Linked DNA regions of Homo sapiens. The protein of the gene in region 1 purifies or fractionates together with the protein of each later gene. This does not show direct contact. Each region holds a gene or a part of one and is shown on either strand. Other genes may lie near its edges. The genes, in order: CIRSR, BTBD1, UBR3 and CCNYL1.

The links.
Region 2: the proteins of CIRSR (region 1) and BTBD1 purify together in Homo sapiens (affinity purification with mass spectrometry; 2 studies listed by BioGRID and IntAct, with this or other methods). This does not show direct contact.
Region 3: the proteins of CIRSR (region 1) and UBR3 purify together in Homo sapiens (affinity purification with mass spectrometry; 2 studies listed by BioGRID and IntAct, with this or other methods). This does not show direct contact.
Region 4: the proteins of CIRSR (region 1) and CCNYL1 purify together in Homo sapiens (affinity purification with mass spectrometry; 2 studies listed by BioGRID and IntAct, with this or other methods). This does not show direct contact.

What each region holds. Positions count from the first base shown.
Region 1 is NC_000002.12:174,346,473-174,351,775, reverse strand, and holds the end of CIRSR (corepressor interacting with RBPJ 1), read left to right. Parts: intron 1-50; coding exon 51-157; intron 158-1,030; coding exon 1,031-1,116; intron 1,117-2,603; coding exon 2,604-3,279; 3' UTR 3,280-3,754; downstream 3,755-5,303. UniProt on the Homo sapiens protein: May modulate splice site selection during alternative splicing of pre-mRNAs. Regulates transcription and acts as corepressor for RBPJ. Recruits RBPJ to the Sin3-histone deacetylase complex (HDAC). Required for RBPJ-mediated repression of transcription.
Region 2 is NC_000015.10:83,028,366-83,037,477, forward strand, and holds part of BTBD1 (BTB/POZ domain-containing protein 1), read right to left. Parts: intron 1,964-9,112; coding exon 1,771-1,963; intron 364-1,770; exon of another isoform or gene 251-363; intron 1-250.
Region 3 is NC_000002.12:170,074,016-170,083,127, forward strand, and holds part of UBR3 (E3 ubiquitin-protein ligase UBR3), read left to right. Parts: intron 1-3,452; exon of another isoform or gene 3,453-3,588; intron 3,589-3,886; exon of another isoform or gene 3,887-4,372; intron 4,373-5,798; coding exon 5,799-6,008; intron 6,009-6,529; coding exon 6,530-6,669; intron 6,670-7,710; coding exon 7,711-7,828; 3' UTR 7,829-9,112. UniProt on the Homo sapiens protein: E3 ubiquitin-protein ligase which is a component of the N-end rule pathway. Does not bind to proteins bearing specific N-terminal residues that are destabilizing according to the N-end rule, leading to their ubiquitination and subsequent degradation.
Region 4 is NC_000002.12:207,714,017-207,723,128, reverse strand, and holds part of CCNYL1 (cyclin-Y-like protein 1), read right to left. Parts: intron 1-9,112. UniProt on the Homo sapiens protein: Key regulator of Wnt signaling implicated in various biological processes including male fertility, embryonic neurogenesis and cortex development. Activates the cyclin-dependent kinase CDK16, and promotes sperm maturation.

The DNA.
Region 1 (5,303 bases):
AAGGTAGAGAGATATAAATGATACATTCAAACTGTGATTTTTGTGAACAGGGCCATCGATGCACCCCTCGGAGCTAATAGCGGAGATGAGAAACAGTGGGTTTGCACTGAAACGAAATGTACTGGGGAGAAACTTGACCGCAAATGATCCATCACAGGTAATGATCTTTTTATCAGTAAGCTGAAAATGTCTATAAATCTAAATGTGATTGCTTGTGAATTGCTACTTAATGTTTTCCAATATGCATATATCCATAGGAAAGTAAGATAGAGCAAAGAAAATGCCCAAAATGTGTTTTGATTTTGCTTTATTATTTTAATCTAAATGAGAAATTGTTTATAAACCTGTATTTTAATAAATGAAACTGCTCCTCTGAGTTTATGTGGATAAAATATCTAACTGAACTGGTGATGAGGTTGTTGGTTTTTCCTTCCTGCTAACTTACCCCTGATATGACATTAAATAGAACCAATGGTTAGAAGTATGTAAAAACTCCTAAAAATTGTAGAAAATATTTTAAACTTATTTATTTTATTAAACTATACATAGATCCAGAAAATGATTGAGTTTGAAGGGCTATATTATTATATATTTGATAATGTGCTGTTGAAATTATAATAAAAGCTAAAATTGTGGATATTTTGACATTCCTGTAAAACTCATAATCTTCTTTTTTATATTTCATTAAATTAAAAATAAAGTATTTAAACTGGCAAGAGTTAACATTCAAGAGATAGAGAATGGAAGTCATGCTCTAAACATTTTATCTGTGTGTGTCTATCATCCTTTTCCTGGAAAAGTTTCCTAATGCTGGCAAAGCAGTCATGTTAACCTCTTAGTGCTGTATGATCCACTTCGGCAGGGAGACTACAAAAAAATTTTTTAATTCTCTCCCACTTCCCAATCCAAAATATCATATTCATCTACAGTGTGTCCCTGATACAAAACTTATTTATAAATGTTTTCTTTTTTATCTACTAACTACCTTGTGTTGAAATCTAGCAATTTAATGATATCTTTGTTGACTCAGGAGTATGTTGCAAGTGAGGGTGAAGAAGATCCAGAAGTTGAATTTTTAAAGTCACTAACAACCAAACAAAAACAGAAACTTCTCAGGTAATTTAGAAGTATATATTTAATAGATTTATTTTTTCCTTAGTATTCATCTCAGTATCGTATTCAACTCTGATCCTAAGAGCTCATGAAGGTCCTTATACCATGCATCACATTTATTGATTATTCTTCACCCATAGCTAATACAATTTTGTCTGTCTTTTCAGTAACATGGAAATGAGTGTAAGATTGTATACTCAGATTGTACCACAAAACGATTGCACTTTTCAGAATGTTTAATTTAGAATTAGACTTATTTATAGCTTTTACTTTTCAAAATAGATTTGTGTGTATCTTCGCACACAATTTGTTCTTAGGAAACATTTTTGGCCATTTTTAAAATGTTTTGTAAAATTTTATGAGAATGCAGAAAGAATGCTTAAATTTAAGGTAAACGTGAATTTTGTTAAACAGACTACCTCTGAATTAAAAGAATCCAAGAAATGTCTGCTGGGTCCAATAGAGGGAGCTCATGATGCTTTCAGTATGTAGAGTTTTGAGAATGGCTAGACAGAACCTAGAGACTTATTTTCAGAGTAACTCAAACATACCATATAAACAAGTTACTCCTCCAAGAATGTGAAGTACTCTAGAAATTCAGAATGTTTTAATAGGATTGTCCTATTTATAAAACTAAACAATTGTTGAAAACAAGTATTAACTATATTATTTTATAAAACCAATATTTCAGAAGTTTAATGTGTACTCTTACTCAGAATTTCTGGAGAATATTCTCTTGAATTTTGATAACGTTGATTAATATTTATATACTATAAAATAGTACATAAAATTAATTTTTCATCTGATTATAGCTATATATTTGCTTTTTTAGTAGTTCCAACTGATGTTACACACCTTTCACAGGCTTTCTTTAGGATGACCCTTTAGAGTGCTATATAATTTCAACTCAGTAAGAATTTAACAAAAAAGTAGTCATTACTATTGAAGTATAGTCAGAAAATTGGCTTGATGCATTTAATTTTTTAATTTAATGTATTCACGCTTTGAATAATTTTAAAGGAAGAAAATGAGTTGTCATTTAGTAAACAATGCGTTCATATATGGATACCAGTTCTTTTTTTTTTTTTTTTTTTTTTTAAGACAGAGTCTCACTCTTTTGCCCAAGCTGGAGTGCAGTGGCATGATTTTGACTCACTGCAACCTCCGCCTCCCGGGTTCAAGCGATTCTTCTGCCTCAGCCTCCTGAGTAGCTGGGATTACAGGCAGGTGCCACCATGCCCAGCTAATTTTTGTATTTTTACTAGAGATGGGGTTTCACCATGTTGGTCAGGCTGGTCTCGAACTCCTGACCTTGTGATCCGCCCGCCGTGGCCTCCCAAAGTGCTGGGATTACAGGTATGAGCCAGCGCGCTCTGCCATGGATACTATTTTTAATAACTTCTAAGAAAATATATTGTTTGTTCATAACTTACAGTTGATGAAATAACTGTTTTTCACACAGTCTGTTACTGTTTATTTCCCAATTACAGGAAATTAGATCGACTGGAGAAGAAAAAAAAGAAAAAAGATAGAAAAAAGAAAAAGTTTCAGAAGAGCAGAAGTAAACACAAAAAACATAAGTCCTCTTCTTCCTCATCTTCCTCCTCCTCCTCCTCTTCCTCTACTGAGACTTCAGAAAGCAGTAGTGAGAGTGAGAGTAACAATAAAGAAAAAAAAATACAAAGGAAGAAAAGAAAGAAAAACAAGTGTTCAGGGCATAACAACAGTGATTCTGAAGAGAAGGACAAGTCTAAGAAGAGAAAGCTTCATGAAGAACTTTCTAGCAGTCACCATAACCGGGAAAAAGCCAAGGAAAAGCCCAGGTTCTTAAAACACGAGAGTTCTAGGGAGGACAGCAAATGGAGCCATTCTGATTCTGACAAAAAGTCCAGAACCCATAAACATAGCCCAGAGAAGAGAGGCTCTGAAAGAAAGGAGGGGAGCAGCAGAAGCCACGGCAGGGAGGAAAGGAGCCGGAGAAGCCGGAGCAGAAGTCCTGGTAGTTACAAGCAAAGGGAGACAAGGAAACGGGCACAGCGAAATCCTGGTGAAGAGCAAAGCAGAAGAAATGACAGCAGAAGCCATGGCACAGACTTGTATAGAGGAGAAAAAATGTACAGAGAGCACCCAGGAGGTACACATACTAAAGTGACACAAAGAGAATGAAGCAGAAGTAGAGAAGAAAGACTGTATGTGACAATTACCTGGGAATAAAAATATCTCCACTTTTTTATTGAATACCTTTAGCAAGGGGTAAATTATGTACTGTTGTCTTTCTAATAAAAAAGCTCAATTTTAATTTTTCATCTCTAGACTGTCAATTCAAGTACAAAACTACATGAGTACTATAAGAATGAATTTTGCAAATATTTGTAAGTAAGCTATTTTGGGGCTGTGGAAATATTTTCTGTTGGTAACTGTTTCTTGTTCCCCATACCAGATAAAAACCGCATATAACTCTGTGACATTTTCTTTGTTCTGAAACATCATTAAAAGAATGACAGTACATTGAATGGGTATAATTTACTTTTTTCAATTCAAATTTGTTATTCTAGGATTTGAATTTGCTTGAAGTGAATTGTAATAATTATTCAAATTCATTAGTATAAATTAAGGATTAATAAATCTTTAAGACTTTTAAGCCCCCTTTAGGTGTTTTGTTCTATAGAATAAGCTGTTTACATTTGGATAATATTAGTTTTCTGTGCAGGTATACAAATTACCTCAAACTTAAAACAGTCCAACGGGGCCAGGCACGGTGGCTTTACGCCTGTAATCACAGCACTTTGGGAGGCCCAGGCGGGCGGATCACCTGAGGTCAGGAGTTTCGAGACCAGCCTAGCCAACATGGTGAAACCCCGTGTCTACTAAAAATACAAAAAATTAGCTGGGCATGGTGGCATGCAGTGTAGTTCTAGCTATTCGGGAGGCTGAGGCAGGAGAAACGCTTGAACCTGGGAGGTGGAGGTTGCAGTGAGCCAAGATTACGCCACTGCACTCCAGCATGGGCGACAGAGTGAGACTCCGTCTCAAAAAAAAAAAAAAAAAAAAAAGCCAGGCATGGTGGTGCGCACCTGTAGTCCCAGCTACTCAGGAGGCTGAGGTGGGAGAATTGCTTGAACCCAGGAGCGGAGGTTGCAGTGAGCCAAGATCACGCCACTGCACTCCAGCCTGGGTGACAGAGCAAGACTCCATCTCAAAACAAAACAAAACAAAAAACAGTCCAGCTGTATTAACAGTTCTAGAAGTCAGAAGTTTGACATGGGCTAAAGTCAAGATGTCAATAGAATTGTGTTTCTTCTAGAGGCTCAAGGGGAAAATATGTTTGCTTGCCTGTTCCAGCTTCTAGATGCTGCCTGCATTTCTTGGCTCCTGGCCCCCCCTCCTCTGTTTTCAAAGCTAAGAGAGAGGAGTCAAGTCCTTCTCAAATCTAATCATTCTGACACTTTGCCATTCTGCATCCCTCTTCCAATTTTAAGGACCTTGTGATTACATCAGGCCCACCTGAAGAATCATGCAATAATCTCCCAATTTTAATATCAATGTTAATTCTATCTGCAACTTTAATTCCCCTTTTCTTTGTAATGTAACATATTCACAGGTTCCAGGGGTTAGGATGTGTACATCTATGAGGGACTATTATTCTGCCTTCCACAATTGGCCCTTCTATTACTGGCATACAACTATTAAAGATTTTACTTCATACCTGGTTGATCGTACCAGTGGTCCGTGGCGGGGGGCAGGGGGTAGATTTTCAAATGAAACAATGCAAACTGTTTTGATATTTCACCAGTATAGGTATATAAGGCATATTTAAATTTAGCTGCAAATTTTCCCTTGTGTTTCAAAGGATATGGTAAAGGAAAACTACAGAAAGAACTGGTACAAATCACAAGTAACATGCAGTTCCAAAAAACATAACTTCACATCTTGGACACAAGTTTTTTTATCAGTGTTCTATATTTTTTAACCATCTGCTATTTAATACAAAACAAATACTGATTAGATGGTTTTGATAGTTGGCAGTCACAATTTCATAAATTCTGTAGGAGTAACATTTGAAAGAAGTAAAACCACTCCACATCATCTGATTATGTCTTTGACTTGTCTGTGCACACACACAAAACAAGTGTCCTCTAAGAAAAACTTAAGTGAAGAGGTAAACAACCCTTGATTATTTAGATTTTTAA
Region 2 (9,112 bases), on another chromosome or scaffold:
CTGAGCCATTCTTTCAATCTCCAAATAAACTCTGTTTGGTCATACAGTGTTATTCTTCGAAGGTACAGATTCAATATCCTAATGTTTTACACAAAATTTCTTCTTTATATTGAGATTGATCTAGAATTTTTTTTGTCTAGTCTGATGCCTATATAAGGGTTATGCTTCCTTCAATAATTAACCAAGTAGTACTTTATTCTTTTAATGCTCAAGGAAACTAACTGTTCCTTGAGGATTTGACAAAACTCACCTGTAAAAACCACCTTGTGAAGGGACAGTTCTTTGATAACTTTTAATTCCTTCCATGGTAATTGGTCTATTCAGGCTTTTCTTCTTCAGTCAATTTTGATAATTTATATTTGCCTATAAAATGATCCATTCCATCAACATGTTCAATTTATTAGCACAGAATAAACCCAGAATTAAAATAAAAATGTCAGCATATAATTATATTCCCATTTTTGCTTCTAAATGTGAATGTTTATTACCTTTGCCAGAGGTTTATTTATTTTATTGGTCTTTTAAAGGAACCAGCTTATGGATTTATGAATTCTACTATTTCTAATTCATTAATTTCTACATTTATCTATTTACTTTCTCTTTTCTTATAGTTCTTTTGCTATTTGTTTTCTAGCTACTTGGGCTGAATGCTTAAATCATTTATTTCTACTCTATTTACTACAAGTAGTTAATTATTACTTTTTCTTTGTGTGCAGCTTTGGCCTCATCCCATAATTTTTGCATATAGTTATTGTGAATTATTATTAAATAGTCTACAAGTACATTTTTAATTTCCATGTTAACTTAAGATTTATAATAGTCCCACATCCAACCAGATTTTTCTGTTTTAACAAACTTGTTAATTTCCAGTTTTATACTGAAGTGCTATTAAATAAATGAAAATCCAAAAGTCATGTTTTGTGAAAACCGGCACTGATTCTATTTTGACATTCAACCTAAAGAAACACAGTACAGCAAAGACAATTTCTTCAACAGGATTATACGCATGCATTTTTCAAGATTCTTGATTTTTTTCTCAAGGCTTTTATAAATGTATACTGAGATACTTTCCCTGCAACATCTATGCAAAGAAAAAACTCACACTAAACATAGTAAGGTTACATTTATTAATTGTAGCCCTAAGCCTGTAAAAATAACGTTTGATCAATTAAGGTCTAGAACTCAGCCCACTGGCAGTGGTGATCCAAACAAAAATCATGTAACAGCTGGGCGTGGTGGCTCACCCCTGTAACCCCAGCACTTTGGAAGGCTGAAGCAGGTGGATCACTTGAGGTCAGTAGTTCGAGACCAGCCTGGACAACATGGTGAAACCCCGTCTCTACTAAAAATCCAAAAAGATTAGCTGGGCGTGGTGATGCATGCCTTACAGGTTACTCAGGAGGCTGAGGTGGGAGGATCGCTTGAACCCAGAAGGCGGAGGTTGCAGTGTGAGAGATCCCACCACTGCACTCCAGCCTGAGTGACAGAGCGACTCCATCTTGGGGAAAAACAAAAAAATCACGTAACAGAAGGTCCAACCCAATCCTTTCTTACTCTATTTTTTTCTTAAGAAGTCACCCTCACTCATAAATCAGTGAGGAGGGCAGGATGCCTCAGTGACTTCTTGACTCCTATATTAACTTAACTTAAAAGTGTATTAAATGAAGTATAAAATGAAATGTTGGTTAATTATCTCCCATAATATATAAAAAAGGCCAAATGGTAACTGCTACCCCCACTCTACCCCCGCATCCCCAATATAACAGATACCTGATTCGATCACTCGTCCCACTGTAACCCCAGCGGCTTTCTACTTGCTGGAATCTATTGATGCAGCATTCCTTTCCCCTGAGACAGCATCTTGGTCGGTCAATGTATTCAACTCGGGGTTTAGGGTTGACAGTAAAATGAAGAAAGAGGTTTACCACTTCACGATCTGACAAAATTCCAGATTGAGCAGGACCTGTGGAAATAAAAACATAAGCCTAAAAAAAGGAATTTGATTTCAATTCCTAACTTTGGAATTCACTTAACGTAAATTCAAATCTAGAGGACGTAACATAAAAATAGGGGAAAAAAATCTTAGCATATATAATTTTTGCATATATTTTAAGGTTTCAATAAATCCATTTGAGGTTAAACACATTAATTAAAATGTTAAAAGCATTAATTAGTCAAAACTTAGATCCAGGAATAAATGCTATTCCTCATGGATGCCAGGAATCCTCCTTTCTCACCTTATACAAAAATCAACTCAAGATGGATCAAAGACTTAAATCTAAGAAACCATAAAAATTCTAGAAGATAGCATCAAAAAAACTCTTCAAGACATTGGCTTAGGTAAAGAATTCATGACTAAGAACCCAAAAGCAAATGCAACAAAAACAAAAACAAATGAATGAGACCTAATTAAACTAAAAAGCTTCTGCATAGCAAAATAAATAATCAGCAGAGCAAACAGACAACCCACAGAGTGGGAGAAAATATTTGCAAACTATGCATCCAACAAAGGACTAATATCCAGAATCTACAACTCAAATCAGCAAGAAAAAAAAAACAAATAATCCCAGCACAAAGTGGGCAAAGGACATGAAGAGACAATTCTCAAAGGAAGCTATACATACGTGTGCATGTGTCTTTATAGCAGCATGATTTATAATCCTTTGGGTATATACTCAGTAATGGGACGGCTGGGTCAAATGGTATTTCTAGTTCTAGATCCTTGAGGAATCGCCACACTATCTTCCACAATGGTTGAACTAGTTTACAGCCCCACCAACAGTGTAAAAGTGTTCCTATTTCTCCACATCCTCTCCAGCATCTGTTGTTTTCTGACTTTTTAATGATCACCATTCTAACTGGTGTGAGACGGTATCTCATTGTGGTTTTGATTTGCATTTTGCTGATGGCCAGTGATGATGAGCACTTTTTCATGTGTCTGTTGGCTGCATAAATGTCTTCTTTTGAGAAGTGTCTGTTCATATCCTTCGCCCAGCAGACTTGGAACCAACCCAAATGTCCATCAATGATAGACTGGATTAAGAAAATGTGGTACATATACACCATGGAATACTATGCAGCCATAAAAAATGATGAGTTCGTGTCCTTTATAGGGACATGGATGGAGGTGGAGACCATCATTCTCAGTAAACTATCACAAGGACAAAATACCAAACACCGCATGTTCTCACTCATAGGTGCGAACTGAACAGTGAGAACACTTGGACACAGGAAGGGGAACATCACATACCGGGGCCTGCTGTGGGGCAGCGGGAGGGGGAAGGGATAGCATTAGGAGATATACCTAATGTAAATGACAAGTTAATGGGTGTAGCATACTAACATGGCACACGTATACGTATGTAACAAACCTGCACGTTGTGCACATGTACCCTAGAACTTAAAGTATAATTAAAAAAAAAAAGAAGATATACAAGCGGCCAATACACATAAGAAAAAATGCTCATCACTGATTATCATACATAGGCAAATTAAAACCACAATAAGGTACCACCTTACTCCTGCAAGAATGGCCATAATTAAAAAATAAAAAAAGAAAAATAGATGTTGGCGTGAATATGGTGAAAAGGGAACTCTTTTACACTGCTGGTGGGAATGTAAACTAGTACAACCACTAAGGAAAACAGTATGGAGATTCCTTAAAGAACTAAAAAGGACTGGGGGTGGTGGCTCATGCCTGTAATCCCAGCACTTTGGGAGGCCGAGGCAGGCAGATCCCAAGGTCAGGAGTTTGAAACCAGCCTGACCAACATGGTGAAACCCCATCTCTAACAAAAATACAAAAATTAGTTGGGTGCAGTGATGTGCGCCTGTAGTCCCAGCTACTCGGGAGGCTGAGGCAGGAGAATCACTGGAACCTGCGAGGCAGAAGTTACAGTGAGCCGAGATCGCACTACTGCACTCCAGCCTGGGCAACACAGCGAGACTCTGTCTCCAAAAAAAAAAAAGAACTAAAATTAGAACTACCATTTGATCCAGCAATTCCACCACTGGATACCTACCCAAAGGAAAATAAGTCATTACATGAAAAAGATACTTGCACGTACATGTTTATAGCAGCACTACCAACTGCAAAAATATGGAGCCAACCTAAATGCCCATCAACCAACAACTGGATGAAGAAAATGTGGTATACATACACCATGGAATACTACTCAGCCATAAAATGGAACGAAACAAAGGCTTTTGCAGCAACTTGGATGAACTTGGAGGCCATTATTCTAAGTGAAGTAACTCAGGAATGGAAAACCAAATACCATATGGTCTTACTTATAAGTGGGAGCTAAGAAACTATGAGGAGGCAAAGGCCTAAGAATGATATAATGAACTTTGGGGACTTGGGGGGAATGGTAGGAGGGAGGTGAGCGATAAAAGCCTACATGTTTGGTACCATTCCCCAACATGGTGAAACCCCATCTCTACTAAAAACACAAAATTTAGCCAAGGGCGGTGGTGGGTGCCTGTGATCCTAGCTACTAAGGAGGCTGAGGCAGGAGAATCACTTGAACCTGGAAGGTGGAGGTTGCACTGAGATGAAATTGTGCCACTGCACTCCAGGCTGGGTGACAGTCTTACTCTGTCTCAAAAAAAAAAAAAAAAAAACAGAATAGAATTGCATTCAAATGATAGATGGGAATAACTGTCAACCTTGAGCTTTCTACCCAGAAAAATATCCTTCAAAAATGAAGGCAAGCTGGGCTCAGCAGTGTGCCCCTCTAGTCCCAGCTACTCAGGAGGCTGGGGTGGGAGGATTGTTTGAGGCCAGAATTTTGAAGCTGTGAATAGCCACTGCACTCCAGCCAGGGAAACACAGCAGGGCCCCATCTCTTTTTTTAAAAAAAATGGTAAGATAAAGATGTTTTTAGACAAAAGAAAAAAAGAGTTGAGAGAATCTGGTTAGTATCCTACCTGTTTTAAAAGAAATATTGAAGAGAATTCTTCAAGCTAACAGAAATGTGCCCAGATAGAAGCACACATCTGGTCATACAGAAAAAAATGAAGATAACTGAAAGGGCAAATATATAGGCAAATCAAAAGGATTATTGACTTTAAAAATAATGTTTTGTGGGCTTTATAACATATGAAACATTAAAATACATGAAATAGTAGCACCAAAGGCTAGAGAAGGTTAAATATAGCAAAAGTATCAATAATGCCTTTATATTGTGTAGAAAATTTTAATTTAAAAATTTTAATTTTATTTATTTATTTAGAGACAGGGTCTCACTGTTGCCCAGGTATGGAGTGCAGTGGTGTGATCACGGCTAACTGCAGCCTTGAACTCCTGGGCTCAAGTGATCCCCACCTCAGCCCCCCAGGTAGCTGGGACTACAGGTGTGTACCACCACTCCAGGCTAATTTTTAAATTTTTTTTTGTAAAGACAGGGTTTCGCCATTTTGCCGAGGCTGGTCTTGAACTCGACTCAAACAATCTACCTGCCTCAGCCTCCCAAAGTGCTGGGACTAAAGGCATGAGCCACTGTGCCCCATCTAAAAAATTTAATTTTTAAGATTTAATTTAAAAATCAATAAGGATATATTCTTGTAATAACAAGGGCAACCCACTAAAATAATAATAAAAGAATCTTTAATACGGGAGGCTGAGGTGGGAGGATAACCTGAGCCCAGGAGGTTGACGCTGGAGTAAGCTGAGATCATGCCACTGCATTCCAGCCTGGGTGACAGAGGAGACACTGTCTACACCAAAAAAAAAAAAAAAAAGAAAAAGAAAAAGAAAGTTTAATAGACTATTAATCATATTAAATATAAAGTGAACCAAATATTCCAAATAAAAGGCAAAGTCTGTCAGACTGAATTTTTTAAAAATGAAGCTTACAAGAGACATGGTCAAAATAATGTAAGGCTAAAAGTAAAAGGATGAGAAAGATATAGAATTTAAAAAACCTTGAGAAACTATACCAATATCAGACAAAGACTTTAAAACAAGAAGTTTAGGCCAGGCGTGGTGGCTCATGCCAGAATGTTGGGTGACTGAGGCAAGCTGATCATTTGAGGCCAGGAGTTCGAGACTAGCCTGGCCAACATGGCAAAACCCCATCTCTACTAAAAATACAAAATTTAGCAGGGTGTGGTGGTGCACACATGTAGTCCCAGCTACTAAGGAGGCTGAGGCATGAGAATTGCCTGAACCCAGAAGGTGGACGTTGCAGTGAGCCAAGATTGTGCCACTGAACTCCGGCCTGGGTGACAGAGGGAGACTGTCTCAAAAAATAAAATAAAAAACAAAAACCCACAATAAGTTTAGATTTAAGATGAGATAGACTGTAAAGATAAAGAAGCAAATTCAATATAAAAAAAAATCCTAAATTTGAAGGTACCTAAAATAAAGAAGAAAATAAAGAAGAAAACTGATGGAACCAAAAGGAAACACATTCTCAATCATACCCTGAGATTTAAATCTACTTCTTTTAGTAACTGATAGAACAAAAAGCAAATCAATAGATAGATACATAGAAAATTTGAAGATCATTAGTATATATTCCTTTCATAGATATAGTATTCAATCTGTTGAACAGATACAGGACTATTCAGGTTTTTCTGCACATAACAAAGAAGAATACATTCTTCTCAAGTATACATGGATACTTATTACAACTACCGTATGGGCCAGGCACGGTGGCTCATGCCTGTAATCCTAGCATTTTGGGAGGCCATGATGGGTGGATCACCTGAGGTCAGGAGTTTGAGACCAGTCTGGCCAACATGGTGAAACCCTGTCTCTACTAAAAATATAAAAATTAGCCGAGCGTGGCACCGCATGCCTGTAATCCCAGCTACCGGGGAGGCTGAGGCAGGAGAATCGTTGGACCCCAGGAGGCGGAGGTTACAGTGAGCCAAGATCATGCCACTGCACTCCAGCCTGGGTGACAGAGTGAGACATTGTCTCAAAAATAAATAAAACAAAATAATAAAAAATAAATAAAACTACCATATGCTGGGCCAAAGCAGATATCAACAAATTTCAAAGCATTGAAATGATATAGAATATATTTTCTGACTATACTGGAATTAAGACAGAAATCAGCAAGAGCAAGATAAGAAGAAATCTCAAATATTTGGAAATTAAGTTATCTATAATTTATGAGTCAAAGAAAAAAAAAGCAAAAATTAAAAATTCTTAATCGAATGCTAATGAAAATACACATATTAAAAACTGTGGGGGGGAAGGATGCTGAGAGAAAAAATATACACTTAAATATATGCATTCAAAAAGAATATAGGTTGACCTTCTAAGTATCTCAAAAAGTCACAAAGACTAATAAAATAAATAACCCCAGCAAATTAAAAGCAAAGAAAGGAAAGAAAGTAATAAAGAAAAAGGCAGAAAGTAATGAAATGGAAAACATACTGTAATAGAGAAAATTAATAAAGCTAGAAGTTGGTTCCAGGAGAAAATTAATAATACAAACTCTTGAACACTGGGGGAAAAAAAGGAAATATTTCTAACTTTTGTATGAGGACAATTTTGACAATTTCATTGCAAGAAAAAAAAATATATATAGACTAATTTCTCTCATTCAGTAGTCATAAAAATACATTAAAAATTCAGCAAATTAAATCCAGTAATATATAAAAAGGATAATGCATAACAACCAAGTCTGATTTACGTAAGGAATCCAAAATAGGTTTAAATTGGGAAATCAATTAATGTAGTTCACTATATTCACAGAATAAGGGGGAAAACTGTATCATTACCAAAAAAAAAAAAAAAAAAGAATAATAGCTTGATTCCTCTAAAAGAAAGCAAGAAAGGAAAAAAAAAAAAAAGATGTGACAAGTAGAAAACAAATTGCAAGATGGTAAACATAAACCCAAATATATCTGTAATTACATTAAGTGCAAGTGAACCAAAACAGTTCAGATAAAAGACAAAGTCTGTCAGACTGGATTAAAAAATTATTGGCATATTCAACATCATTAATCATCCGTGATATGAAATTTAAAACCAAAATGAAATACGTCCTCACATCCACACAAATGGCTAGAACTACAAAAACTGACAATACCAAGTATTGGAGAGGATGTGGGCAACCAAAACAAACTCTTATGTCTCTTCACTTTGTTGATGAGTGTAAACTGTTACAACCACTTTAAGGGACTGTTTGGCAGGATGGCAGGATCTACTAAAGCCGACCATATGCACACTCCATGACTTAGCAATTCCACTCGTATATATCCAACAGAAATGTTTACGTATGTATACCAAATCACACGTACAAGAATGGCCTCAATGGTCCCCAAACAGAAATAATCCATATATCCAACAACAGTAAAATGGATAAATCATGGCACAGTTGTATAACAGAATATTATAAAGCAATGAAAAAGAATGAACTACTGCCACACTCAACCACATGGATGAATCTAACAGGCGTAATGTTAAGAGAAAGAAGCCACACAAAAATGAATACACACCATATATATGATTTCCTTTATATAAAGTTTACATATGGACACAACTAATTTATAGAAGACAGAAAGTAGTCACCTTTCAGAGGGAGATTAGTGACTTAGAGGGTCATGACAAAGGCTTCTGGGGTACTAGTACAGTAGGATAAATTGGTTAAATAAGTATGTTCACTTTATTTGTTAATTTTACTATATGGATGTTAAACTTTAATTTCAAAAGTTTATTTAAAAAAAACCCAAACACTGATTCTTATCAGCAAAAACAAAAACAATCTTGGAGAAAATTGGAACAAGTATAAGTCAGAAAAAAAAATTTGGTATAATAATAAATATACAAAGAATCAATGTAAGATAAACCAGTAAAACAAAATTTGAACACACCAACAGAACAACAAAAGACATGAATAATGTAAAGGAAAATAAATAGGCCAATAAGCATAATGAAATACAATTCAGCCAGGCACACTGGCTAAGAGGTGAAGGTGGAAGAATCACTTGAGCCCAGAAGCTCATGGCCAGCCTGAGCAACATGGCAAGACTTCATCTTTAAAACTAAAATAAAATCGAAAAATAAAAAGTAATACAATTCAAAACAATCATGAAATAGTGTTAAAAATAAAAACCATATGACTGTCTCAATAGACATGAAAAAGCATTCAAT
Region 3 (9,112 bases), 4.3 Mb from region 1:
CAGCTCAGCTAGTTAAAGGGTTTGTATTGAAGATAAGTAGAGTGGGAACAGCAGTGAGTGGCTGTGTATGCCATGGTTGGAGTCTCAGAATTCTAGAACTACAGTTTTTTAAAATTGAATAATGTGATGAAAGTAGTATTTTGGGGAGTAATTCTGGTGTCTTTTTAGTGGATAAATTAAAGTAAGGATAAAGGGAAGCCAGAAAATATTTAGGTGGTGAAAAAAATCTAGACTATTTTTCTGATTGTAAAACTTGGAAAGTAACTAATGTAAGAGACATTTGAGAAAAATATAGGACTTGGTGACCAGATGTACATGACTTTAAGATCTTGAACTCCAATCATTAGGAGAGTAGTGTCTAGTATATACAGCTACAGTAGGAACATGCGGCTGCTTAAACACCATTGCTGATGCCCCATTGCCTATGGAAGAAGGTATGGACTCCTTGCATGGCACTCAAGGATCTTCACCATCTTGCTTGCCTTTCCATCTCATCGTATAGCCTCCCTCTGCCATTACCTTGCTCAAATCACAAAAGAATGTTTCATAAGTATGCTATACATTTTTAAACTTCTAGAACATTACTTATTGCTGTTACTAAAGCAACCTTCCTACCCTTCTGTTGAATTAATAATCACTGTTTGCTAAGTAACATTTACCTTTGCTAAGATAAATGTGACTTCCTCCATGAAGATTTGTCTGATAGTCCATCTTCCTTACATCCTAATCCCTTTTTTTTCTGTTGTTCTATAAGGCTGTACTTTTGTGACTTTCTCTAACAGTTGCCATGTTCATTACATTTGTTTCTTTAATGTATCTGAATGGGGGCTCCACGAAGCAGAAATTGTTCCTTATTTATCCCCGGTTTCTAGAAAGTGCCTCATATATACTAGTCACCTAATAAATATTTGTAGAACAATTAAGTTGTGGGGTGGTGTCTTTGGCAGAAATAGAACGTATTAAAGGGGAGCCAAGTTTCAGGGAAAGTGAGAATTTTAATTTTGAACATCAAAGGGACAATAAAAAATTAATATTTCAGATGAATGTGTCAGACTAGGTTTCATTTTTAAAACATTGGAGTGAATAATAAAAGATAAGCATAAGTTATAAATGTCTCTGCTTTTGTTCTTTTCCATTTTTTGCTGAAATCCTTAAAAAGATGCTATCTCATTTTATACCCTTTTTTTAAAAAAAAAGGGAAATTCAAGTTAATTGAATCTTGCATATTACATATACAAATATCTTCCTGTCTAGTAATTTCTTTATTCACAGAGCATATAGCAATAATTTGACATCATACTTTGATGTCTGAAAACCTATGCAGGATGACATGGAGTAAGAGGGGTATAATTGTAGAACCAAGGCAGGGAAAAAAGTGATGAGCACACCCAGAGTTTGTCTTCATATGAGCCATAGGTTAAAATCAAGCCTACATTTTAGATGAATGATTATTGTATGTATGCTGATGGAAAATAAGAATTTTTCATTTTAAAATATTTAATCTTTTCATATAATTAGGTGATAATTATTGTAGAGGCAGTGTAGTAGACATTTGATTAATTTATTAATTTATGCTAATGCAGAATTTTTGCCAGTTATGTAAGTACACCACCATTTGACCTGTATTCCCCCTTGTGTCCCTGCTCCACTCTTGTGTTCCTAACCCTGATCCTGACCCTAGGTCAACCAGATTCTCTTTCTCAGGAATGTTAAATCTGTATAGCGAGACTTAGCAGGGTAAATGGTGACAGGAGCTGTATAGTCCAACAGTACTACCCTTGAAAAACTGTCTGTGAATTACTACTTCTGAATTTTTTTATCAGTTAAGATTCTTTGTTTGGGAACAACAAAATCCAGTTCTGATTTAAAATAAGGAAAACCAAAGCAAACTATGACAGAAAAAAAAAAAAAAACAGGATTCATTGGAAGCATACTTGGTAACCTGCAGAATTGAAGAGCTTAACTGTCATCGCTTGGGAAGAAGAGAAACCACAAATATCTCTGCTCTGTTTTCTCTGAAGTGCTGCCACCAGATAACTAAGCCTCAACCATTTTCCTTCCTTTAATTTGCATGCTCAAGGTTCAGATTCCTGGGAGAGAGAATCTGGTTGGCCTAACTGTTGTAATACATATACCCCAGTGGTGGGGCAGGATCTTGTGTTGGGGACAGCCCCATCAGAACTGTACGGAGCAAGAAAAGGGGTTATTTTCTAAAAGAACTTATAATGTTATTAATATAAGAAAGCAGCAAAGGATGCTAGGAGGATTTAAAAAACAAACTAGTGGCCCACTACTTTCACATCTTACCTGCCTGGCTCATACACACCCTTCTTCTCATTCACAGTTTCACTTCTGCTGTTGAAAATGATGTAACCATTTTACTTATGACTGCAAATGCATCTGTGACTTTCCCAAATAAGCAACCTGATGTCACATATAGTCCTTACATCATCAGGCCTCTCTGCATCCAGTAGCTCTGAGAGATGTCCATTGTTCCTGTCATTTGTACTCACACCCAGATGGCCTGGAAAATTTTAATTAGTACCTGCTCACCCTGAATTCAATAGTAAGAGAATGAAAATGTTGCAAAGATATATGATACAGTAAGCAAGATTTGCAAGTAGTCATAAAGCTGCAGCTAATATACAGTCAAATATATATGACTTTCTTCTTTTACCATCCGTGATCCAGCACACCTCAACGGATGATTGGATTTGTTTGAGCAAGGATGTGATACCAAACTTTATTCTGAAAGGGCTGAGCTTCTGGTGATTGGTCCTGTCTTTGTTTCTATAAGGCTGTAATCATTCTGTGTTAAATTTCTGCCTTTCAAGCTTGGTCTATGGTAGGGGTGGTGGTAGGGGTTTTTAAGTTCCAAAATATTGCTCTACCAATTGTATGGCAATATTTTTATTCTTCTTGATAGTCATGGTCAATCCCTCCAGGCAATGCGATAAGCCACCCTTGTGATGTTATAAACCGTACTAGAGGTTAGACAGTACATAGCTTGTAAATCCGCAGAAGAGTCCGGAATAGCAGTGAAGCAGAAATTTAAGACCGAATTTTTTTTTCCATTTTAATGTTTACAATTTAATAAATCTCTTGATTGCAGACATGTAAGGCTGTTTGGTAGTATTCAGAAACATCACAGTAATGGCAGTTTTTTCAGTTGGTGTGTAGTCTTCAATAAATATCTATGAAAGTGCTGTCAGACCAGTAAGACTGCATTTATACATCCATCATTTTCAGGATTGTTGGTAACCACAGCCTATTTTCCCCAAATAACCTTGCCTCCTTGTGTCACAAGGCCCAACTCACATTCACCTCAGTAACAGTACCTTTGGTAATAACATCCAAAGTTATATACATTGGGAATGAGGGACTCTTCTTTACACCAAGTATTGTTAGGCAAAAGGTGGCTTTCAGTTCAGGATGTGTTACATGGGCTTTCTTGAAACGCAAGCCCATTGGCCTGATGAATCTTCCATAGATAAGTAGTTTTCTTGTAAAGCCATCTCCAACAAAGCAGACTTTAGTAACCATCCTCCTCTATGCCTGCGTCTTTCTCTTTCCTGTTGGAATAACTTTGAGACAGAGTCTCACTCTGTTGCCCAGGCTTGAGTGCAGTAGAGCGATCTTGGCTTACTGCAACCTCAGCCTCCTGGGTTCAAGTGATTTTCCTGCCTCAGCCTCCTGAGTAGCTGGGATTACAGGCGCCTGCCACTATGCCCAGCTAATTTTTGTATTTTTAGTAAAGACAGGGTTTCACCATGTTGCCCAGGCTGGTCTTGAACTCCTGACCTCAAATGATCTGCCTACCTTGGCCTCCCAAAGTTCTGGGATTACAGGCATGAGCCACTGCACCTGGCTCTGTTCAAATAACTCTTAACACTTCTGTATCTCCCTGGGCAAGTTACATTTAGACAGAGGGACTTTCCATTTTCCTGCTTTCTCTTTTCATTTCGGCTTAATCATACTGGGAAGTACGTTAGCTTGAGGTTGTCCCTCTCTGTCCAGCAGATAGGCAGGTACTGCTCCCTGTGGAGTCTTTCTTTTGTCTGGTGTTTCTCTTTTCATGCATCTTGATGGTCTTTTTCATTTGTATTTTCTCAGCATGGTGCTGTTTAAGATAAAGCTTAGCCTTCAGACCAATCATTTTCTTTGACTTCTTTGAATGTTCATAAGCCTCTCAACTTTCCTTCTTTCCCTTTTTCTCATGGTAATCCAAATGATATCCATGGCATTTACAGTGTAATTCAATATATTTGATCTGTGGCATGGCACAGGCGCAGCCCCTGGGGTGCGAAAATGCTCTCAATTTTTGGGTCTCAGAGACCCACGAGTGAACTCCACACAGGCCGCAACAGGAAAGGCAAGACCGAATTTTAGGTGTAATCATGAGAGGTGTTACAGCTGTTAAATACTTTCCACCTCTTGTTTCCCATACATATGCATTCCAATTGTGAAAAAGGTCACCCATATATACTGGTTGCTGTTTAGAGCATACACATTCTGTAGGTGATTTCTTCCAGCTGGTGCCATCTAAAAGTTTGTAAATTTCATGAATTTCATAATTTTTGTGGCACTGAAAAAATCAGTTTTGTAGTTCATGATTTAAAATACCACAGCTTTTTTCAGATGATTGAATATATGTTAAGATCAGTGAATTCCATGGACATCCACCTGTTGCCTTACATCTCTCTTCATGAGGGAAATTATTGGAGGTAATGTGCTATGGGCTACTGGATAACATGCAGCCTAACCTATAATAAGTGTCAAGTTCAGTGAGGACAAATTGTTATCCCTTCCCTTTAATGGAAGGGTTCCACTGTAATCAACTCATTACAGAATGCCATCCTTGGAGTCCAGGGTTGGGTGCTGAGTATTGGCAAATGATGTATTGTATACTGTTCTTATCATTGCTTCCATGGACACTTAATCCATGAACTTGTTGATGAGGAACAAGCTAGCTTAGTTACTCCACTGATTTAGGTGGATTATGGCTGCATGTAGGTAATGTGAGATGATCTCCATTTAAATTGACTATTACTTACAGTTTCTTAAGATAATAGACTCACTCTACATTTTATCTTTTTTAAGTGTGAATGGAGTAGCATCTAGAAAAATTTAGTGCTGCTGCCAGTATTTTTATACAGCTGCAAATAGTTAATAAAGCATACCCTTCAGGGAAATTTAACTAATTTGACAATTTTTTTATTCTTATAGCAAGACATTTATGAAAAGAATTGTAGCCCAGCACTTATGGATATAAAAGATCTTAACAGCTTGAGGTGCAATGAATTGTACATACTCTAGGAAAGCAATTCTACATTATAAAGTATTAAAGTAGAAAAAATGAGTTATAACCATGATCTGTCCTAAAGAAAAAGCTAAAGAATTGTTTGAGAATGATCAAAACTTGGTTTTAAAAAATACGTAACTTTTAAAAACCTTTGCACTATGCATGTTTAAAGTCAAATACAATTAGATGTATTTTCCCTGCATGCTTAGAGATGGTGTTTTTCTTTTAAAGTAATAACAAGTTTAAATGTTTTAAGGTGCTTAATCTAAAAAATTAAATCATACTGTAATTGGAAACTATAATACATTAGATAATGGTAACTGTTGAACTACTATTTTAGTCATGTATAAGATGGAAATGAGAGGAGTGTTAATAAAGAAAATAAGCCACATTCTTGGAGGCAGATTTTTCTTTCTGTAAAAATACATTTAAAAAATATATTGTGTTAGTGACTTAAATACATAAAACTAATGAATATTTTTGGATAATGTTTTAGGCCTTGCTTATCCAAGAGTCAAAATGGAAATTACCACACCTACTACAGTTGCCTGAGAATTATAACACCATTTTTCAGTACTACCACAGAAAAACCTGTAGTGTCTGCACCAAGGTTCCTAAAGATCCTGCTGTTTGCCTTGTGTGTGGTACTTTTGTATGCCTGAAAGGACTTTGCTGCAAGCAACAAAGTTACTGTGAATGTGTACTGGTAAGCAATAGTAGATAATACAAAATTTATGAAAACACAGATCTCATATCACAAAATATGGTCAAGCCATCTCTTCATATTAACTACTCTTTGAATTAAGTATATAATACATATAGGGATTGTGTGTGTTTTTTAATCCAGTAGAAGAGTAAAAAAAGAAAGTCTTTGAGGCTTTAAGTGAGTAAATCCTTCCTTAAGTACAATTCTAGTTCTCCTTTCATCTACTATCCCTTTAATGGTATGTACTTTGGAATGTGCTGTGAAACAGAAGTCATCTGTGCTGTTGAAGATACTAGACTCTGAATTAGGTTGGCTCTTAATTGCTTTACTAGATATTCCTTACCCAAATACCTCCTAATGTATTAATAATAAAGTGTTAGGAATGGAGTTATAAGTTTAACTTAAATGAAATCTTACTATTTTTAAATCACTGTATTATTTAGAAGGCATTAATATATTCTTGATTTTATTATAAAGCCTATTTGATTATGAAGTTCATTAATATATTTTTAATTTTTTAGCACTCTCAGAACTGTGGTGCAGGAACAGGTATTTTCCTTTTGATCAATGCATCGGTAATTATCATCATTCGAGGTCACCGCTTCTGCCTCTGGGGTTCCGTGTATTTGGATGCTCATGGAGAGGAAGACCGGGATCTTAGGTTAGATGTTCATGGATATATCCAGGTGTTTTATTGAAATTTGGTCAGTGAAAACCAATATGCTATTCCTGGCTTTGTAATTACAATTTTTTTAATATTAAGAAATTCTGACAGTCATTAATTTAGAGCTATTTCTAGTTTTTGAGCTATTGTCCCTATCAATACGTTGAGGAAACATGAAATACACCAAATTACCATGTGAGGTTTTTGCCACAAAGAATCCGTTGGCCAGGCCCAGTGGCTCACACCTGTAATCTCAGCACTTTGGGAGGCTGAAGCAGGATTGCTTGAGCCCAGGAGTTTGAGACCAGCCTGGACAACATAGTGAGACCTCATCTCTACAAAAAAATAAAAATAAATAAGCCAGGTGTGGTGGTCATACACCTGTGGTCCCAGCAACTCGGGAGGAGGTGGAAGGATCGCTTGAGCCCAGCAGGTGGCGGCTGCAGTGAGCTGTGATCGTGCCACTGCACACCAACCTGGGCAACAGAGAAAGACTGTCTCAAAAAAGAATCTAGTAAAAAAAGAAATGTGGTAGGTGTGGTGGCTCACGCCTGTAATCCCAGCACTTTGGGAGGCCGAGGTGGGTGGATCACTTGAGGTCAGGAGTTCGAGACCAGGCTGGCCAATATGGTGAAACCCCGTCTCTACTAAAAATACAAAAAATTAGCCGGGTGTGGTGGCGGGCCCCTATAGTCCCAGCTACTCTAGAGGCTGAGGCAGGAGAATGGCATGAACTCGGGAGGCGGAGCTTGCAGTGAGCCAAGATCGTGCCACTGCACTCCAGCCTGGGTGACAGAGTGGGACTCCGTCTCAAAAAAGAAATAAGTAAATAAAAAATAAAAAAATAAAAAAAGGAGGCAGGCATGGTGGTGAGCACCTGTAATCCCAGCTACTCGAGAGGCTGAGACAGGAGAATTGCTTGAACCCAGGAGGCGGAGGTTGCACTGCGAGAGACTGTCTCAGAAAAAAAAGAAGAAAGAAATGCATGTGAAATCTTCCGTGTATGATATTAATACTTTTTTTTTCTTTTTGTTCTAGGCGAGGCAAACCTCTCTACATTTGTAAGGAAAGATACAAAGTTCTTGAGCAACAGTGGATTTCTCATACTTTTGATCACATCAATAAAAGATGGGGTCCACATTACAATGGGCTGTGACTCTCCACCTCAGCATTGCATCGTATCATCATTTTCGCTACGAATTTATTTTTCAACAATAAGCTTTAACTTAATTTGGGGGATTAACACTTTTGCTGAGGGAGAAAAAGAAAACATACATTATGAAGCCTTTCCAAAATTAGGTGCTTGGTAATCACGTTAATGGTATAATTTTTTTTTTTTAATATCTGGAGAACATTAATAACAAGTTAAATTATTCTTTAGTGGTCATTTTTTAAGTGCACAATTAATAAGAAGCACAACTTGTTCACAAACTCATTCAGAAATGATTCTCCCAACAATGCGTATCAGCTATTCATTGATACTTAGAGTGGGTGTGATTTATTTGACATTTTACTGCTTCTTTCTGTCTGTGTGTTTTAATTTGCATCTGCCAAGCATAATGCATCTTTTTTCCTCTGCCATTCTTGTGTTGATTGGAGAATTTTTCTGTATGTAATTAGAAAAAAATGTAAAACATGATTTATGTGAAATACTGTATAGTAAAAGTTGGTCTAATAGTAGAACTTTAAAATTTTTTCTTATTGTGAGGAATCTGTTAAAAGTTTAAAGCTTTGCTGAAAACTGAATTCATTCTCAGGAATTTCATAAATCTTCTCCCCAGGTAAATAATTGAAATAGCTGTAAAATAAGTAGATAGCTGCTGTTAATATAATACAGTACATTTTGGGGGGCATATGTGTGGTTGGGGGGTCCTTAAAAATCAAAATTTGCCATTTCAGTTGGATGAATTACTAGAGGTAATAACAAATCTTACTATGAAATCAAGAGGTTTAAGAACATACACTGGGCAGATGTTGATTCCGTGCATGCCCACCTTTTATTACCAAACAAGGTTTTGTTTATATGATTGTATTAGAAATGCTCAGACTTCCCCAGAAATGAACCATAAATTTTGGAACTTCCTTTCAGCTCAAGAGGTTCAGCTATATTGTATTTGTGCAGTGTAATCACTACTATTTCTGCTCGGTTTCCTAAAAGGAAAAAAAAGGCGCAGTGGTGATGACCCTCATGAATGAGCCACGCTTCTGCATTCTTCTTAGAAACTGCTGTGAAAAACAATTTATGTTTGCAGGGTTTAAAAATCAGTAAAAATGGGAATGATTGAGCTAAAACCCACTCTATGAGAAGGAAGATTACTGAAAAGCATGTGACATATTGCTACAAAGATTTTTTTTCCTAAATGATTCAGTAATTGAATGATTATTTAATATATAGTGCTATCAAGCAATCCCTGGTACTTTGGACTTCCATGGCTTGTTA
Region 4 (9,112 bases), about 33 Mb from region 1:
TTCTTATGTAAAAGACCCACACAAAAATTATGTTTGAAGTTTTTCCACATCTTGAAAAGATGACGTGACAATTTTAAGCTATTTGGAAAAATAAAATCATTTGTGCACAAAATGACAGGCAGAGACTTTCACAGCTGCCTCTACCTAAAGCTCCTTTTTTTTTTTTTCCGAGAGAAGAGTCTCACTCTTTCGCCCAGGCTGGAGTGCTGTGGTGCAATCTTGGCTCACTGCAACCTCCACCTCCCGGGTTCAAGTGATTCTCCTGCCTCAGCCTCCCAACTAGCTGGGACTACAGGCACGCATCACCATGCCCGGCTAATTTTTGTATTTTTAGTAGGGACTGGGTTTCACCATGCTGGCCAGGCTGGTCTCAAACTCCTGACCTTGTGATCTGCCCCCCTCGGCCTCCCAAAGTTCTGGGATTACAGGCGTGAGCCACCACACCCAGCCTCTACCTAAAGCTTCTAAAAGGATTCATGACTACTTCCTTTCAAAAAGAAAGCAAATATACTACCATTTGAATCTAAAAAATAACTAATGTTTACAGAAGAAGCCATATTATGAATCAGTACCTATGTCATGATAAAGTTTAATTAGGAATTTTCAATGAAGTCCAGGAAAATTAAGTACCAAAATCAAAGAGGAGCAGGCTTCACACACACACCTCCCCCGCCCCAAATCAAGATGTGCTACTATGTATTTAAATATAAGAAAACCAAGATGTGCTACTGTGTAAATATAAGAAATATCCAAGGCGGCTGGGCATGGTGGCTCATGCCTGTAATCCCAATACTTTGGGAGGCTGAGGCTGGCAGATCATGAGGTCAGGAGTTCGAGACCAGCCTGACCAACCCAGTGAAACCCCATCTCTACTAAAAATACAAAAAAATCAGCCAGGCGTGATGGCGTGCACCTCTAGTCCCAGCTACTCGGGAGGCTGAAGCAGAAGAATCGCTTGAACCCAGGAGGCAGAGGTTGCAGTGAACCAAGATCACACCACTGCCCCCCAGCCTGGTCAACAGAGCAAGACTACATCTCAAAAAAAAAAAAAAAAATCCAAGGCAACTAGGATAACAGAAATGATAAGATATAGAGAAAAAAGCCAAATAAGCCCAAGTAACAAGCTGGCACTCCCTCAACTCAGGGGTTTTAGGGTGGGCATGTGACTTACAGCTGGCCAATCAATTACATTTCTCTTGGGACTTCCCAAGAACCAAAGGAGAAAGGCAGGGCTGTACTCTAGCACTGCTAGCCAGCCAGGAGCTGCCACCGAGGCTGAGGCAGGAGAATTGCTTGAGCTCAGGAGGCAGAGGTTGCAGTGAGCCGAGATGGCGCCACTGCACTCCAGCCTGGCAACAGAGCAAGACTCTGTCTCAAAACAAAAAAAAAAAAAACAAAAAACTCCTAAGAATGTTTGAAACTAGAAGAAATAGTTTTTGATATCATGGTTAGGGGTTATGTATAAAATTGTATTTTAAGACCCACCAGTTTTGTATTATCAATTTAAATTGCAACTTAATTCGAAAGCATGATAGTATGATGGGGGGCAAGTAAGACAAAAAAAAATTAAACTCAGGTCTTAATATAAACACCCCCCTCAGGGGAAGAAATCTGTAAGATCCACTGACATTGAACACTGCTTCTCCTTGAATCTATCAGCCATCTCAATTTCACAGATGTTAATTAAAAATGTAAAAATATGGAACTTAGAATAAATGAAATGCATTATTACTAAAGGCTAAAAGTGTTAAAATTATGCAATTGTAAACTGTAAAGAAATTATTTTTCTTGTCAAAATATTAAAGGGAGAGGGCAGCAACCAAGAAAGTAACTGACAGAAGCAGCATATTTCAGAGAAAGAGATTGAGTTCAACATATTGATTTCAATATATCCCAATTAAACAGGAGACATTGGCAGTTTCTGGGCCAACTGCTGGGCATCTGTTTATTTAAAGGCTTACTGCATTTACTGACCTGCTCTACCATACTGCACACTGTATTAGTCTTACGGTCCATAACACAAACATTTCAAACCTCTCAACTATGATGTAAACGCTGAGATTTTATCTAAGTTCACACGTTCCACCCATCAGGTAAGTCTTACCTGATGGGTCTTGAGCTGCCCTGCCTCATCTGAGGTCACACAGTACCAGCCAAGCTCCAGTCTCATGCTCACTCATGCCTTGCTTTTGCTTTCCTAGCTTCTGACAATCCTAAATCTGGTTTCCGAAACACTGCTCTACCTCCTTCTATGTCAGTGTTCAGTCTTGCTTTAACTTACCTTCACGCCTCAATCTATGTTTTAGTGATCGTGACTGAGCTGTGACATTTCATATGCTATAGTATACCTTTCTCCCTTTGTGTATTTCTTAATAGCACTTAACTCCTTTTTTAGACTTTTAAGAGTATTTCTGGGTGGAGTGCAGTGACTCACACCTGTAATCCCAGCACTCTGGGAGGCTGAGGCAGAAGGATCACTTGAGAACAGTTCAAGACCAGCCTGGGCAACATAACATAGTGAGACCCCCATCTCTACAAAAATTTTTTAAAAGATTAGTTGGGTGTGGAGGCACATGCCTGTAGTTCCAGCTATTTGGGAGGCTGAAGTGGCAGGATAACTTGAGCCCAGGGATTTGAGGTTACAGTGAGCTCTAATGGCACTACTGTGCTCCAGCCTGGGCGACAGGCAGAGTTGTGACCCTGTCTCATACAGAGAAAAGAAAAAAAAAAAAAAAGTCTGGGTTACAAGTACCTCCATTTCATTTTTCATTATCCAATGTTATTATTTTAACTCTAAAGCTTAATTAACTGAAAAAAAGGTGGAAAAAAGGCAGTATCCAAAGAAGCCCATGAGTCATTCTATAAATTCTAATCCTATATGCCATATATCTGAAATTTACATTCTTGATCTACCAAGCCTTTTTTTTTTTTTTTTTTTTTTGAGACGGAGTCTCACTCTACCACCCAGGCTGGAGTGCAGTGGCATGATCTCGGCTCACTGCAACCTCTGCCTCCTGAGTTGAAGCGATTTTTCTGCTTCAGCCTCCCAGGCAGCTGGGACTACAGGCATGTGCCACCACACCCAACTAATTTTTGTATTTTTATTAGAGATGGGGTTTCACCATGTTGGCCAGGATGGTCTCCATCTCCTGACCTCGTGATCCACCCACCTCAGCCTCCCAAAGTGCTGTAGTACAGGCATGAGCCACCACCACACCTGACCATACCAAGTCTTATCTTTTTAAACCTTGGAAAACTCTTAGTCCCAGCTACTTGGGAGGCTGAGGCAAGAGGATCACTTGAGCCCAGGAAGTGGAGGCTGCAGTGAGCTATGATCACACCACTGCACTCCAGCCTCGGCAACAGAGAAAGACCATCTCAAAAACAAAAAACAAATTAAAAAACCTTGGCAAACTCAATTTACACCTCTCAAAGCCTGTCTTCTCATATGTAAAACAAGTATAATTCTTATACTACCTAACTCAAAATATAGTGAGAATAAAATGAAATGCAAGAGCAATTGCTATAAGCCGGGCGCAGTAGCTCACACCTGTAATCCCAGCATTTTGGGAGGCTGAGGTGGGCAGATCACCTGAGGTCAGGAATTCAAGACCAGCCTGGCCAAGATGGCGAAACCCCTTCTCTACTAAAAATATAAAAATTAGCTGGGCGTGGTGGCACATGCCTGTAGTCCCAGCTACTCAGGAGGCTGAGGCATTAGAACTGCTGGAACCCAGGAGGTGGAGGTTGCAGTGAGCTGAGCTCGTGCCACTGTACTCCAGCCTGGGCAACAGAACTAGACTCCATCTCAAAAAAAAAAAAAAAAGCAATTGCTATATACCACATAATGCACAATAAATTATAAAACAAAGTTTTCACAAATTAAAAGCAAAAGTGAACAGTTAGCATTTATTGGAAAGCCCATACCAAAATAACATCTTCAGCAAATATGCACTTTGGCTACCTCTGAAATTAAGGGAAAAACAGTCACACACCACCACCAAGAATTCCTTTCAGTGTTGTTGTTTTAAATAAGCAAATACATATTATTTCATACATTACTGTACATTCTCCTCCTTGTTTTTTTTCATGTAACATATCCTGGATATCTGGGTATCACTCCATAGCAGTAAAGAGAGTTTTTTTTTTTTTTAACAGCTCCATAATTCTCCTCTGTGTGGATATAACAGTTTATTTTACCAATTTCTTACTAGACATATTATTTCCAATATTTAGCTATTGAAAATAATGCAACAAAACCTTATGCACATGTTATTTCATATTTATGGGGTATGCCTTCAGGATAAATTCCTTGAAGTAGGATTTCTGGATTAAATGCATTTGCAATGTTTGAGATTATGCCAAATTCCTCTTCAGGGAGTCAAACCACCTTACATTTTAACCAGCAATACACGAATGCAACTCTTCGCAGCCACACCAAAGAATGTATTGTCAAGTTTTTGGATCTTCTCCCAACAGAAGAGAAATCACAGCACAGTTTTCGTTTGTATTTCTCTTAAGTGTGAAGCTGTGTTTAAGGATCATCTGCATTTATTTTTCTGTGACTTGTCTATTCATCACTTTGCTACCTACTTTTACAGCTAGTCTGATCTTTTTTTTTTTTTGAGACAGTCTCACTGTCACCCAGGCTGGAGGGCAGTGGAGCAATCACAGCTCAATGCAGCCTTGACTTCCTGGGCTCAGGAGATTCTCCTGCCTCAGCTTCTTGAGTAGCTGGGACTATGGGTGTGTGCCACCACACCTGGCTAATTTACTTTTTGTAGAGGCAGGGTCTCAGCACGTTGTCCAGGCTAGTCCCAGCCCACTCCTGGGCTCAAGCAATCCTCCTGCCTCTGCTTCCCAAACTGCTGGGATTATAGGCATGAGCCACCGTCTGATCTTTTTCTTAAACAATTAAAAATATTGGCCGGGCATGGTGGCTCACACCTGTAATCCCAGCACCTTGGGAGGCCAGGGTGGGTGGATCACGAGGTTGGGAGATCGAGACCATCCTGGCTAACACGGAGAAACCCCATCTCTATTAAAAATACAAAAAATGAGCCGGGTGTGGTGGCACGTGCTTGTAGCCCCAGCTACTCGGGAGGCTGAGGCAGGAGAATCGCTTGAACCCAGGAGGCGGAGGTTGCAGTGAGCCAAGATTGAGCCACTGTACTTCAACCTGGGCGACACAGTGAAGATTCCATCTCAAAAAAAAAAAAAAAGAATTAAAAATATTTCCCAGGCTATAATCCTCCAATGGTTTCCTATCACAACTAAAGTCTATATTCTTTGCCAAGGCCCACTATACACACATGGCCTTAACCCACCATAGTCCTGGCATCCTTTTCACTCTTCCGCAGCCACCCTGTGTCTTTCTGTCCTTGGCCAAAAACAAGTTTGCTCCCATTCAAGGAACTCCAAAGTAACTGTCTGTGTGGACCCCTGGCTCTCACCAACCATCCTCACAAGGCTCCCTTCTCACTTTAGGACTGCTCACAGGTCACGTAAGGAGAGCAGCCATCTTTCATCCCCACAACCCCCATGTAACTGTCCTCCTCCCCAATCCATGACCCTATTTTACTTTTCTCCCTAGCACCTCACCACCTAACATTCTTGATTATTCATGTATTATCTATCCCTAGCTCCCTCCAGAATGTAAGGATCAGAGTTAGGATGAGGTTCTGTCTTGTATACCACTGTCTGCCCTAAATCTGGAACACAGCCTGGCCACCTAAAGGTACTCAATAAACATCTGTTTCAGCACACCCAAAACTAGTCAAGTTTCTCCCAGTTTTCCCACATCTTTTAATATTTCTTCTAACATTCTCTCTTGATTTGTCATCTAATCAAATCTTTTAAAGTGGTAAGCATCAAATCTTTTAAAGTGGTAGCTATTCAGAATTAAAGATGCAAGATAGGCTACCAAGAAACAAAAAATATTAAATGATGAATTCTAAAGTCCAGGGAAAAGTCAATGCTAACTCCAATTTGACATAAGAACTTTTTTTTTTTTTTTTTTTGAGATGGAGTCTCGCTCCGTCACCCAGGCTGGAGTGCAGTGGCGTGATCTCGGCTCACTGCAATCTCTGCCTCCTGGGTTCACACCATTCTCCTGCCTCAGCCTCCCGAGTAGCTGGGACTACAGGCGCCCGCCACCACGCCCGGCTAATTTTTTGTATTTTTCGTAGAGACGGGGTTTCACCGTGTTAGCCAGGATGGTCTCGATCTCCTGACCTCGTGATCCACCCGCCTCGGCCTCCCAAAGTGCTGGGATTACAGGCGTGAGCCACCACACCTGGCCCATAAGAACATTTAATACTAAAATATCTTAACTACAAAATGACTCAACCCATAGATTTAACTGAATTCTACAGGGAGGTACAAGGCATCAGTCATCAAAATATGTTTTTATCGGTACCCTTGAAATCAAATGTAATGAGACTGTGTATGATGTTACTAGAAAAGATGCCCAATCATAAAGGATAGGTAAATAAATGATACTCCAACCATCTGATGGTACATTAAGCAGTTACTAGAAGGCATGCGATAGAGCAGGGTGTCCTGGCATGGAAAGATATCTTGGAGCACTCTCTGGATGTCAAGCAGTGATTCAGGAATTTATGACATTATTTCACTGCTGTAAGTTATGAAGCAGCTCATATAGAATGATCTCATTTTTCTAAAATAAAATGTTATATTCATATGCATACCATAATCAATGACTTTTCTGTATTCTCTATGTCTTTTACATCAAACATATTATTCAAAAAAGCAAAAAAAAAAAAAAAAGAGAGGGCTTAAAATAGCTACTGGAAAGAGGAAAGATCTGTTGCTCAGAGGTTTTTCCACATTACATTGCCAATTCTTTCCCTACCTTCACCCATCAGTGGAAAAGAATAGAAAGAGTCACTTCAGAGAGCGCCTTTAGCCAGCAAATTAGCAAAGCTCCTAACGTCAGAACATAAAATGCTCCATGAAAAGTCAAGAGTACTAATAAAATCGGACAATAAGATCTTAGTATCTTATTTTGTGTTACTGATACTACCGTCAGTTATGTTAGACATACCGTTAAATAAAGGCAAGGTAGTAGAAAATACTTTGAGTCTATCTGAAATGTTTACTAGGTTCTTAGGAGCATCTCTTAGCTTGACGAGACCAGGCGTGGTGGCTCACACCTGTAATCCCAGCACTTTGGGAGGTTGAGACAGGTGGATCACCTGAGGTCAGGAGTTCCAGACCAGCCTGGCCAACATGGTGAAACCATCTCTACTAAAAACACAAAAAATTAGCTGGGCGTGGTGGCACACACCTGTAATCCCAGCTACTCAGGAGGCTGAAGCAGGAGAACTGCTTGAACTCTGGGCGCAGAGGTTACAGTGAGCCGAGATCGCGCCATTCCACTCCAGCCTGAGCAACAAGAGCGAAACTCCATCTCAAAAAAAAAAAAAAGGCCAGGCGCGGTGGCTCACACCTATGATCCCAGCACTTTGGGAGGCCAAGGCAGCTGGATCGCTTGAGGTCAGGAGTTCGAGACCAGCCTGGCCAACATACTGAAACCCTGTCTCTACTAAAAATACAAAAATTAGCTGGGCATGGTGGCATATGCCTGTAATCCCAACTACTTGGGAGGCTGAGGCAGGAGAATCACTTGAACACGGGAGGAAGAGGTTGCACTGAACCAAGTTTGTGCCATTGCACTCCAGCCTAGGCAAGAGTGAAGCTCTGTCAAAAAAAAAAAAAAAAAAAAAAGAAATAGCTTGAAGAACAAAGCCGAGCGTCATTTATGTATGATTTTTGTCTAAGTAACAAAAATAATTCTTCATTGTAGAAAAGCTAAATTTTTTGTTTGTTTGTTTGTTTTGAGACAGAGTCTTGCTCCACTGTCCAGGCTAGAGTGCAGTGGCACGATCTCAGCTCACTGCAACCTCTGCCTCCTGGGTTCAAGTGATTCTCCTGCCTTAGCCTCCTGAGTAGCTGGGATTACAGATGCCCGCCACCACACCCAGCTAATTTTTGTATTTTTAGTAGAGACGGGGTTTCACCATGTTGGCCAGGCTGCTCTCGAACTCCTGACCTCGTGATCCGCCCACCTCAGCCTCCCGAAGTGCTGGGATTACAGGCGTGAGCCACCATGCCCAGCCAAATGTTTTACATCTCAGTAAGAATTTCTGTTTCCAGGGAGACTGATATAAAATTGTCTGAAATAAAGATATTAAAAGCAAACTTTCAATGTGTCTATACTTTATATTTGGTGTTCTGGCCATGTTTCTATGGAAACTTATGAATAATAGGCAAATGCCGAAATGGAGATTTCTATTATCACTTTATTGAATGCCACAAAAATAAATTTTGAGACAAATTGAAATAAAAATGTAACTGTCATACTAACATACAATGGTAAATTCTGTGCTTACAAATTCTCTTTTTCCAACTTTTCTGATTTAGCACTCTTTATCATCATCCCATGCTTAATGCCTGGTACCTTACCTTCCCTCTTGCCAGCTTCTAATATTCCTCTGTCCAGTGCATTCTCAGCTTCAATTCACAGTTACCAGAACAAACTCTTTAAAATTTATCAACCTGTTTATTTGATGGGTATATTTAGGCCATTTTGTTACCTCTACTTTTATTCTTATCCACTGAAATGAATGTATAGACATAAGATGGAGCCAGGCAAGATGGCACACGCCCGTGGTCCCAGCTATTCAGGAGGCTGAGGTGGGAGGACTGCTTGAGCCCAGGCCAGGAGTTCGAGGCCAGCCTGGTCAACACAGTGAGACTCTTTCTCTTAAAAAAAAAAAAAAAAAAAAAAAAAAGAGATGTAAGTGTTGCCTCTGAATCGTGTAAAATAAACTTTGAAAGGAACTAATCAAGACCGAAGTAAGTTCTCAAAAACAGGACTATTTTATGGGTAAAATACATGATGCATTCTGGATTTTTAAAAGTTTTTTAAGAACTGAACTTGGTATATCTCACCTCCATGTCAGTCTGAGAACTGAGAACCTTAGTTCTGCTCAGTGGCTGTCTTACATAGTCATTCTACATACCTAACTCTTTATTTCTTCATTAGCAACACGGGGAATATAAACAGGCCTTATTTTGGAAGGGCTAA